Homo sapiens: one gene and its partners. The protein of the gene in region 3 binds, or shares a complex with, the protein of the main gene of each other region. Links are inferred from orthologs where the notes say so. Each region holds a gene or a part of one and is shown on either strand. Other genes may lie near its edges.

The links.
Region 1: the proteins of SNAP25 (region 3) and VAMP3 are in contact, whole or in part, in a crystal structure (PDB 5KJ8), measured with the Rattus norvegicus proteins. The link is inferred for Homo sapiens from one-to-one orthologs. Residues at the interface, in NP_112253.1 of Rattus norvegicus: Asp147, Leu150, Glu151, Val153, Ser154, Ile157, Leu160, Arg161, Ala164, Leu165, Met167, Gly168, Ile171, Asp172, Gln174, Asn175, Ile178, Asp179, Ile181, Met182, Ala185, Asp186, Asn188, Lys189, Ile192, Ala195, Asn196, Ala199, Thr200, Met202; in NP_476438.1 of Rattus norvegicus: Ser15, Arg18, Leu19, Gln21, Thr22, Gln25, Val26, Glu28, Val29, Ile32, Met33, Asn36, Lys39, Val40, Glu42, Arg43, Lys46, Leu47, Glu49, Leu50, Arg53, Ala56, Leu57, Gly60, Ala61, Gln63, Phe64, Ser67, Leu71, Lys74.
Region 2: the proteins of SNAP25 (region 3) and RPH3A are in contact, whole or in part, in a crystal structure (PDB 5LOW), measured with the Rattus norvegicus proteins. The link is inferred for Homo sapiens from one-to-one orthologs. Residues at the interface, in NP_112253.1 of Rattus norvegicus: Glu38, Asp41, Ile44, Arg45, Leu47, Val48, Met49, Asp51, Glu52, Glu55; in NP_598202.2 of Rattus norvegicus: His617, Ser618, Ala621, Ile648, Ser649, Ala650, Lys651, Gly652, Leu655, Tyr659, Leu662, Lys663, Lys665.

Annotation. Positions count from the first base shown.
Region 1 is NC_000001.11:7,769,712-7,773,458, reverse strand, and holds the start of VAMP3 (vesicle-associated membrane protein 3), read right to left. Parts: upstream 2,164-3,747; 5' UTR 2,076-2,163; coding exon 2,074-2,075; intron 18-2,073; coding exon 1-17. UniProt on the Homo sapiens protein: SNARE involved in vesicular transport from the late endosomes to the trans-Golgi network.
Region 2 is NC_000012.12:112,790,152-112,793,898, forward strand, and holds the start of RPH3A (rabphilin-3A), read left to right. Parts: upstream 1-1,596; 5' UTR 1,597-1,861; intron 1,862-1,991; 5' UTR 1,992-2,112; intron 2,113-3,747. UniProt on the Homo sapiens protein: Plays an essential role in docking and fusion steps of regulated exocytosis.
Region 3 is NC_000020.11:10,216,714-10,220,460, reverse strand, and holds the start of SNAP25 (synaptosomal-associated protein 25), read right to left. Parts: upstream 1,632-3,747; 5' UTR 1,484-1,631; exon of another isoform or gene 1,248-1,483; intron 1,225-1,247; exon of another isoform or gene 955-1,224; intron 1-954.

The DNA of each region.
Region 1 (3,747 bases), on a different chromosome or scaffold from region 3:
CAGTTGGACCTGTAGACCTGGAACATGTAAAGGCATGAGCATGAGTACATTACGATTCCAAATACATTTTCTTAAGTATAAAGATGTTACTCCGGGACTCTCACTGTTAACAATCTCTTACATTAGAACTAAAACAGAAAAAGAAATTCTTCCTGAAGCAATGAACGAAAGTTTTAATTGCATTTCTTCTAATTTCTCTATAATTTCCAAGACTGTCCCACCTACTAAAGGGACAAATGTTAAGCTTTAATAGGACCTACTTTGTATCCCTGAAGTATCTGATCCCACGATAGGTAAGCTCTACTGTCCTTTTTTGAAACTTGTTCTAAGGCACACATCTGCTTGAATGTACTCAGTACTTTCCTGATCTTTTCATTGTGGAAGGAACTGTTTTCATAGTTACAAACAGTTACAGAATGCCCTTTTTCCAATATGGAAAAATAGATTAATTTACAGAAACAGAGTCAGGAACACTGGGATGCAGGGAGTGGGTGGTGTGAGTGGAAAGGTGTGTTGAAGAAATGCCTCCTCTTTTAGGAAGGTACTCTTTCTTTTTCCCCCTCTTTTGAGAGACGGAGTTTCGCTCCTGTTGCCCGGGCTGGAGTGCAATGGCGCGATCTCGGCTCACTGTAACCTCCGCTTCCTGGGTCCAAGCAATTCTCTTGCCTCAGTCTCCCAAGCAGCTGGGATTACAGGCATGTGCCACCACGCCCGGCTAATTTTGTATTTTTTAGTAGAGACGGGGTTTCACCATGTTGGTCAAGCTGGTCTCGAACTCCTGACCTCAAGTGATCCGTCCACCTCGGCCTCCCAAAGTGCTGGGATTACAGGCATGAGCCACCGCGCCCGGCCCAGGAAGGTACTCATCTTTTAAAATCTTCATCAAAGGCTTTATTTCTCCCCATGCAGATCTTTCTTAACCACTCTGACTCTGAAGTCATTATTGGCTCCATTACTTGGAAAGTATCACTTTGGTTTTTCAGGTATAAAGTCCCGCCTCCTCGAATAGATCACAGGTTCCTGGGTCTTCTTACTCTCTTCTCTGTATCCTAGATAGCACCTAGCATGTGCCTTGGTATACAACAGTCTGATGGGCTGTTTGAACAGTCACTTTACATCTGTCATGTGTCAATGACCAGGGCTACAACAGATCTCATCACCGTCCTCACGGAGTTTAGTATCTGGTAGATAAGTAAGGACCATGCCGTGGCGCTAGACTCTTTCCATGCTTTTCCTCCTTTAACCCTCATAACTCTCTGAGGGGAATATTACTCCTATTTTACAAATGAGTAAAGTGAGGTTTAGAGAGTCAACACAGCTGGCTGCAGGACAGCTTGTTTTTAGATCAGGTCCTGTGTACCTTGGCTCTAGATCTTAACCACTGTGATCTATTGGCACAGCAGCCTCAGCAGGAACATTCGAGGGGGGTCCCCAGCTCCTGGAAGAAACCCGGGGCTTCCTCCGACGGTGAGCAATGAGCAGAATGGAGGTGGAAGAGGGAGTCCTTGTGATTCTTAACCATTAGCATTCTCTGAGTCTTACCACTGGAAGCAGGGGTTTGCAACGTGCTTTCGCTTAAGAGAGCGAAGGCCCACGGTTAAGTGATCTTTCCAGTGCAGATGCCCCTAGCTAGGCAAGGAGCTCTTCGGCCCACAGGGGCTCAGGACAGGGCCGAGGTCCTTTCTTTCGCAACTTCTGGGGCCCAGCGCAGCACCGGGCCGAGAGCGGGCGCTCCCGAACCAGGGCTGTCGTCCCCATTCCTCTCAGGGACGTCGGGGACTAGAAAGGGAAGGGGCGAGGAGCGGGCTGCGGGCGGGCAGCTCACTTCCTCCGGGAAGCGTCTCGCCGCCCCGCCCTTGCCCCTTCCGCGTCCGCCCGATGGCCGCGGGACCCGCCCGGCCCGTCTGCAGCCCGCGACCCAAGGGCCACCGCCCACCCCCAGGCCTCGGGATCCCCGCGCAGCCCCGGCCTGCGTCCGAGTGGCGGCCGGCGGCAACTGGGCAGTATGGCGGTCCCAGCGCGAGCTGCCGCCTGCGGGGCCCGAAGCCGCCCGCGTCGCGTAGCGTCACTCACATTTTGGCAGCTGCGGCGGCGGCAGCGGCGACGAGAGAGGGTCAGCAGAGAAGCGAAGTTGGGACCGGAGGCCAGGGAGATGGGTGGGACGGCGCGGCGCGGGGCAAAGACGTCACTAGGCGGAGCCGGGGGAGTGGGCGGGGCGAAGAGGGGGCGCGCCGGAAGTGGGCGGGGGCGTCGTGGGTGGGTGCGTCCAGGGCGGGGTCAGAGCGAGACGTCCCCTCCCCGGACGAGGTCACTTGGGAACTTGAGGGCCACAGGGGTCCCAGGGCGGTCCGGGCTCTGAAACGCAGAACGCAGGTCAATACAGCTCCCTGTCCGCACCGCCGTCCGCGCTGGCGCTTGGGGACGTGGTCTGTAAACGTGGTGCATTAGCCACTGGCGAGGGACTGCGTGGATAAGTGAGGGTGGGGGCAATTCATGTTATTCTGGGCTCGGGACCATTTCTAACAGTATTAGAGACAGATGACTGGCTTCTGCTGAGTGTTCCAGAGTAACCTAGTGATCCTGAGGGCACCATGTTTCTCTAAAGTAGTTGAAATAGGAAGTCCATTTCGGGTATTTGTCACATGGTGTTGGGTGAGGTTCCCGCTCATGTTTTCATCGGTGACACAAATATTTGTCACTGCAGATCATATTATAATCTGCTTACGAGAGCCTTGGCATCAAGGCTGTAGTTCCTTTATTTCTGTATTTTCAGGCCCTAGCACAGAATAGGTCCTCAGGTTTTGGTCGAAGGGAGGGAAGCACAAATCTGAACGCAGTGAGTTACCTTGTATATATTTGTTACTGAAATATTCCTACCAACATAGTTACCTACACCAAAAAATAAAACACTAATAGGTCATTGGTGGGTCTCTTAGATGAGAAGTGAAAAATACAGTACTTAAATACTATGCTGTTTTTTCCAACTCTAAATAGAATACTTTGAAAAGGGAAACGTTAGTATATATCGAATAAACGAGTGTCACAAAGGCGGTGGGATTTGAGCTGGGTACTAGTGGAAAAGAACTTTCCAAGTAAGGGTTGGGCAAACACCATGAACAAAGACAGCAGTGAAAATGGACGCAGTGTGCACAGACCACCTAGAGGGTGCAGGTTGGGTACAAGTGAAAAGAAGACTGAATAAAGAGGATAAACAAACAAGAAAAATGTCATTTAATTGTAGTGGGCCCTGGAAACCATTGACTTACGGACGTGGGAGATCCATGATGCAAAATTTCTCTGGCAGTAGTGGCCAGATGGATTAGATGGAAGAGGGAGCACTAGGGAGATAAGGAGAGGCTCTGCAGTGAACGGGAAGGGAGCGGCGATGACACAATACTCAGAAAGGACGACGTTCGTAATCTGCTGGAAAATGCCTTTTAGAAGACTTTAGAGGATTGTAACTGAAAAGGTGAATTAAATTAATGTCTTTATCTTTCAAATAATTGCACTGCCTTACACAAATGATTGACATGTTGAGAGGTGCCTGGAAAGATAGGGGAAAAGCTCTCTGAATGGTGGCTGGAAGACATTTTTTCTTTCATGGACCTAGCTGAAACAATGTAACATTCAATGTCAAAACATTACATCTGGATCAGAAGGAAATCCTTGACATTATTACATATGTTTTGAAACATGTGCCCATCACCTTAGATTTCACTACCCGGTCATATTAAAGCAAAACACACA
Region 2 (3,747 bases), on a different chromosome or scaffold from region 3:
GTTCATGTGATTCTCCTGCCTCCACCTCCCGAGTAGCTGGGATTACAGGTGCACACCACCATGCCCAGCTATTTTTTTGTATTTTTAGTAGAGATGGGGTTTCACCATGTTGGCCAGGCTGATCTCGAACTCCTGACCTTAGGTAATCCACCTGCCTCGGCCTCCCAAAGTGCTGGGATTACAGGCATGAGCCACCGCGCCTGGCAGAGACACTGTCTTTAAAAAATTGTTTTTTAAATGAGCTCTAAATGTTCTCATTTTAACTCCTGGGTCTCATGGGGAGAAGTAAGTGACAAATGTAGTAGTTAACCCTGGGCCATCTGGATGGGAAGCTTTAGATATGAGTCTCCAATAGAGAGAGTTCTCCTTCACTTTGCAGAGAAGTTCTAAGCAGATCTTGGTCTGTTTGAGATTTCCTGGCCTTTTTCCAATTTGAGCCCTTTCCCAAAGTTAGGAGGAATAGGACTCTTGAGATATGGAGCACTGGGAGCCATGGGAATCCATTCATCTTTATATATTTCCCCTTTTGATACTTTTATTTCATTGTCCATATAGTGAATTCACTTCAGAAAGCCAGTCTGGATCTTTCGGGGAAGGCTCTTTGGCCAAGGCTCAATGGTCTGATTTAGACCTAAAATTTCCCTTCATTCTACTCAAACCACCTGCTGAAGGGTGAGGTTGGCACATGCCATCCTAGCTGGGCTGTCAATTCCTTTATCACTCTGTCCAAACATTTGTGTTTTAGGACAGGTTATGGACCATGAAATCATGGCAGTTCACAGCTTGGGTATTCTTATTGTTGCATTTTAACCTCTTGCTTCCTATCTTTAGGAAAAATAAGGTCATTATGTTATCATTTTCACAGATGGGACTTGGAAACATTAAATGACTTTTCCAGAGTTGTAAGGGGGCTGGATCTGACTTCCAGAAAACCATCAAGTGCTTATTCAACTAAGCCACCCTGCCCCTTAGAAATTTCCATTTCTTAAGCCTCAGCTTTTCTGCTCTGAATTCTGAGAAACTCCAGGTACAGGTCAAAAATCTGCAGCAATGGGGGTGAGGACAGGTCATCTGGGCGAAACTTTGAGGGGCAAAACCACTTAGGGAGCCCCCCACACCGGTGCCAAGCTCTTGTCTGAGCAGAGAGGAGCAATGCAGGACTGGGGGCGTGTGGGAGACAGGGGCTGTGAAGTTATAGTTCCTTTGCTCTGAGAGTGAGCGACAGTATTAGAAAAAGTGTGTGGTAGGTAAGCTGTCACTGACTAGACTGTGTGATGTCGAGAAGTCCCGTCCCCCACCCCTCCGGACTCCCCCCTTCTCTGCTTTAACCATCCAATTACTTAACTTCTCTGCCTAGGGGTTCGCTTCCCACCCATCCCCTCCTCCAAGGCATCTTAGCGCTGTCCGTGGTGCTGACCGCCAATCCCCTGGTTGCCGTTTCGACCAGCTGGGATCTCTGGTGCGCCCAACCTCCCCTCCCGGCCTCCCACCTTTCTTTCTCCAGGCACCGCACACATAAATCACGGGTGGGAGGCAGGCTTGGTTCCCGCTTGGTTCCCCCTGCACTGGGAAGCTGCCGCCCCGCTTCCCTTGCTCACACAGGGCTTTGCAGTAGTGGTGGCAGCCGCGGCAGAAACTGGCTCTGGGGAAGCAATTGATTCGTCTACTGCCAGCAGCCCGGAGTTGCCTACGCGGACTGGAAAGGAAGGGAGAAGGGAGAGAGAGAGAGAGAGAGAGAGAGAGAGAGAGAGAGACTCACAGAGCTAAAACCTTCATCCATGTGGAGGACAGTCTGAGGGAGCCACTGTCCCTTGTCCACTGACTCACTGGCTGGTCCGAGTTTTCTCCGCTTCTGGCAGTGGTATTTCTTTTTGTCTTGGTCCTGCATGATTTAGGGGTAGTTGATGTGTCTGTGTGTCTACGTGTGTGCACTGGTGCTTTGATTTTATTTTGGGAAGAGTAGGAGAGTCAAATGAACAATTTTCTTTCAGGCACCTCCGCTGAGCTTTTAAACCAAGTCATTGGGACTTAGCGTCTTTCTACCCGGCAGGGAAGGGAGGAGTTGGCAAGAATTTGGCTCACCCATTCCCCCTGCAAGCCTCCAGCGTCGCGGTAAGTGATATTCTCCCGGGTTGTGCAGATGGGCTAGGGGTGTTGGAATCCCAATTGTGATGTGTGTTCATGAGCTGGTGGGGTAAAGGGTAGTTGGGAGGAGAAGGGTATCGAGGAACGACTATGCTTATTTGCCTACATCCTGCAGTGTTTTATCACCTAAGCGGCATCCCAAAGCCAAATGAGATTTTGGCTTAGTGCCCAGGGAGGGGGTAAAATGTGCTCATGTTGTAGGCAATGCGATCAAGATTGTGGCTTCTGCCCAATTTGCCCTCTCCTTTGCAGCAGAAGCTGGTGAAAGTAGCCGGCAGTTCTCTGAGAGAGTTAACCCTTCGTGGGGCTGGCTAGTCTAGCATGGAGGGACTCTGGGTACTCTGACTTAGCAAGTGAGTGCTTATCCCTGGAGGGGAGGGGGTCACCTGAGACTGGAAGGGTAACTTTTGCCTGGGCACACTGGGTAAGATTTGCACAGGACAGAGCTTAGATTGTACCCTCTTCTAGGAACAGCTGAGTAATTTAATTGTGGTGATTTTTGCGAGGTTGGCTGTTCACGCTTTCCTGAGATGGAAGACCTGGGAGCCAGGAAAGGGCCACACTATGCCTGGGATGAGTGGTCAGGCTGGCCAGAAGGGAGCAGCCACTGCCTGCAGAGGAGATGATGTTTTATTTTCACAGGTGGCGTAACCTGTAAGTGATTGTATGGGGGAGCGTCCTGGCACTAGCTTGGGAGATTCTATCCTTGAGTTCATCTCAGAAGGAAGGAGGGGAACAAAGCTTGTTCAAATTCTGGGGAAAGATTCCAGGCTTCAGCTTCAGTTTTGTTCCAGGGTAGACCGTCCCCCTGCACTAGTTTCTTTTTCCAAGATCCTGATGGGGAAAGGCTGCACCAACCTGTTAGTGAGTGGGAAGTGGAAGTACCTTGAAATTGAATCCAAAAGCTCACATTTAATTTTGAAATGCTTTTGATGCTAATCTGCTACCCATCAAAAGGGGATTTCACTTTGCTTTCTGCTTTGATTACATCTACTTTTCTGGAAATGAATGCCCTTGTTTTTAGCATTTTTGCTATTATCTCAGGGGCCACCTCAGTGTTCTGCACCCCCAAGGATTTCCTTTTTAGATTCTTGCTCTTGGAGGTGGGAGGAATAAAACAACAGTCAGAGATTGGCAAGCCTGAAATATAAGCAGGGTTCACTCATTCTTTTTTTCTCTAGCCCCATAGCTAAGAAGAGATGCTGAAATCCCACAGCATGTGCCTGCTCAGGCAGGACATATGAGGCAGAAGAGGAGGGTTGTCTGGTGGTTAGTGTCAAAGATTTGGTTCTCAAAATCCCTAACTTCTCTTCCTAGCTTCTCTTGCTGGGTGACCTTGAGGAGGAAGTTGCCTTAGATTCCTCACTGGGAAGACTTGAGTGTGAATAATGAATGTGTGGAAATTTTGTTCAAAAAAAGAACCACATATCTGGCTATGGGTGATATTTAAAGTATTGAAATTTGGTACTAATCGATCAGAATGGCTAGGGTCCTGGAATAGGGCATCTTAGGGGGCCCCTGCTGTACTGAGTGTTAATCTTTTAATTGCTGGATTATGGAGAGGTTTGGGGGGATCTTAGGGGGCTATCAAGAGAGCCACGA
Region 3 (3,747 bases):
ACCCTGAAGGACACACTTGGATTCTCCTGAGGAAGGCCAGTCTTAATATTGTCAAAATCTAAAGCTATCAGCCTGCGATAACCAGTGCTGATAGCAAATACTTCCAGTAACTCTGAAACCGTGGCCAAAGAGGTTAAATCTATTCAGTACAGGACCAGTAAAATTTCTCAGATATGTGTTTTTGTGGATGAATGCTTGTATTCATGCCTGATTGCAAGGATGGGGGAAGAAGGAAAAGGAAGAGTGATTCATTCTTAAAGTTGATTCTGCTTAGTTCAGCTAATCTCACATTTTTATCAAATGGAAACATAGAGAGAGATGTATCATCCCTATAAACAGATAGCATTGGCTTCTTCATATATACAGTACTTATGCTCACCCAAGATCTGTAGACAGATCTACTCTGTGTTAAAAAACAAAACCAAACAAAAACCTTGATACCCTGCTGGAGGATAAATCCATATTTTTTAAAAAATGTATTTATTTTCTACGTAAAATAAGGGTCAGAGGGCAACACAGAAGATTTCCACAAGTAGACTATTTTGTTGAAGCTATGCAGGAGGTGAGGAGGGGAACAGGAAATTGTCTGCAAAGGAGTCTCTGTGAGGAAGATTTATTTCTTTCTTGTTTTCTTTTAAGCTACTATGACTCCTCTATTAAGGGTCTCCGTAAGACCGGGGTCTCAGGGAGACAATTTGGTCTCCAGCCCTGGCACATCCAGCCCCGGCCAGGCATTTCTGCCGCAGGCAGATGAGGCGCTGCGGCCGGACCGCTGTCCCCGGTGCTGAAAGGTCGAGGGCGCCCGCGCGAGCCCTCGGTGTTGCTATCCAGGGTGCTGAGCGCGGGCCGCCGCAGTCCCCGAAGCCAGCCCACCCGCGCCAGCCCTCCGCAGAGCCCTCCCACCCGGCACGACCCGCCCGCCTCCCGCCAGCCTGCAGTTGACGTGGAGCAGGCGGCATAAATCAAGTCCGCGGGGCATGGAGGCTGCTGTCGCTGCAGCAGCTCAGCTTGCCCGGGGCGGGAACTCCCCCTTTCTCCTTTCGCCTCCCCAGCACCCACACCCTGTCTCCCCCTTAATTCTTCCCTGGATAATAGCACCCTAACGACAACAGTCATAATAATAGGGTTAGAACGACAGGGGAGGAAAACTCAACAGCCTAAATATCTCTGAAAACTGCATCGCAAAATGGAAGAAAGAGGGGGTCCCACTACTGTTTCAAAAGAGTAAGTTATTATTCGGTACGTACCCTCGCTCTTCCTCCCCGTCGCTCCATTTGCAGGGCTCCCGTTTCCCTTTTCCCCAGCAGCTCACCTCGAAAACACTTTATAAAGCCCCCACCAGACGTGCACACACGGAATACCGCACCCTAAGTGCACCAATACTTGTATTTACCCAAGCCCACTCGGACTGCCCAGCTGCTGTCCCTTCTGGGTATGCAGCCATCCCGAGCCAGAGCCACGACCTGGGGAGGGGGGTTCTTACCTGGGCTTCTCGGGAGGGTTGTGTTCTCCGGGCCTCTGCAGGTTGCAACTGTGGTGGAGCCGCCGAGCAGGGAGGGAAGGAAAGACAGCGCCTGACCTCCCCGAGGTTTCGTCTTCAATGCAACGTGAGCTCTGCCCTCATCAAAGATGGCCGTCCGTTTTGACGTCAGCAGCTTTTAATAGCCGCCCAGCGAGGGGCGGGAGGAAGTGGGGGCGGGGCACGGCGGGGGCGGGGGCGGGGCCCGGGCTGCGGCGCGCTTGACTCGGTTCCCAGTGCGCTGGCCTGCAAACCTGCGTGTTTTCACCTTCTATAAACACCCGCACGGGGCGACTCTTATGACTCCATTTTAACACTCGGTCTTGGGCAAACGCGTTCATCCCGCAACTGCATTCCTGATGTTCTTTGGTGTGTGTGCGTGTGTGTGTACATATGTGTATATGTGTGTGTATGTATATATGTATGTGTGTGTATATTTTATAATACATGTATAATATATGTATAATTTGTGTGTATGTGTATATATTCCCCCCCACCCCCACCCCCACCCCCTTTCAGTGGAATCTGTGGTTGAGTCATCTAAGGAGAGGGGAAGGCAGAGGAGGGGTAAAAGGTAGTGATGGGAGGGGTGGGGGAAATTTCAGCGGCGATTTGTTTTCTCCGAAGAGGGTCCGTAGGGGCATCCCCGTCCACCCTCGCCAGCTCCATATATGGCCAGGCTACGTGGGTTGCTATTTTTATGAGTGATTGCTTCATGTTATCGAAGCAGCGTCGAGGGCTTGTGGCTCTCGTTGCTGTGGTCAGCCGGGCAGCGAGGCTGGCGCACGTTATTTTGAACTACGTCAGAGCCAGGCTCTCTGAGCTGTTGCAGGAGTCGGGGGAAGGAGAAGGGAAGCGGAGTTAGCCCAGCCAGCGTGGGTTTGCAAGGACTCGAGGCTTGAAGTTGAGTTGTTTGCCGAGGGCAAAAACGGATGACTCTGCTTTCGGTGGAATTTGCAGTCGGTGCTGGGGTTTCATGCTGGGTGTCTTAGGGGTACCCCACGGAGGCACAGACGCCCCGAGGGAACCGTCCAAACGGCCGGGAGGAGGTGGGGGATTCAGAGCAAGGACGGCTGGGACACGGCCGAATCTGGGGGTTCACTCAGTGCGCAAACCCCGGGGTACCCGTGCAGGCTGCCTCGGGGGGCCCTCGGATGCTCAAATCAGGGCGGGGAGACAAAGGCTACTTGTGCTGGTCGTATTAGAGATTAAAAGTGATAATTATAAAGCAACAACCCTAACTGTCCTCCCTGGCCGTGCCCGGGCCCGGGAAGGGGGTGGTGCGCGGATCGCTCGGCGGTGGCAGCCTCCCGGATGATTCACAGGTGTTGGGGAGGCTGTCGCGGGGCTCTCCGCAGGGAGGGAGGGCTGGGGAGCGCGTGGGAGGTGGGGGACCTCGTCTGAGGAACTGTTTGTACTTTTCCGGGAAGGATGCGATTAGAAGTCGTGCCTCGCAATGTTAAAACTTGATGGCCTCTTTTAGGCTATGGAAAATCCTTGTCTCGCTTAGGAGAAACCATTTAGAGCTGGGTTCGGAAAAGCGGCGTACAACCTCTCCCCTTGCACCCTCGCCCCCCACCCCCGCCCCACCACACACACACACACACACACACACACACACACACACACATCCCTAGCTGGCCTGAGAGCCAAGCTTAGGCAATAATACGGCCTTTGATTGCGCTCCATTGCGGAGGGAGGGAAGCGGGGTAGGGGGAAGGGAAGAAGAGTTGTGAAGGCGCTGCGTTTAGAAAGAGACGGGTTGTTAAGAATTTAATAAAGGATACCTTTAATCGAAATTAGTAGACATAATTGTTTCTTAAAGATTCCCTGGCCTGAAGGCTTTTTTTTGACGTATTGATGTTTTTGCCATAATAATTAACAGTGTTTGGATGTTAATTAAAGCCAAATTCCTAAAAAAGGCATGTTGCTGAAATTTGTTTACTTAAATATTCATTAAACATTTAAGATTGCCATACAATAAAGAAGAAAATCTGCAAAGTCCTTAGATACTTAATTGCCAATAAAAGTCTCTTGAGTATGGCTCTTACTTTCATTATAAAGCAAGTTGGAATAGGGGGAAAGGGGTTTGAATGCAATGTACTGCAAAATCCTTTGTAGTCAGAATTTTTTCCAAAGTGTGACACTTTAAAAAAAGGCAGCATGCGGAAGTTTGAAGAGAAAAAAAAACCTGCAGAGGGAGAAAAAAAAATGTGTGTATGGCCCTC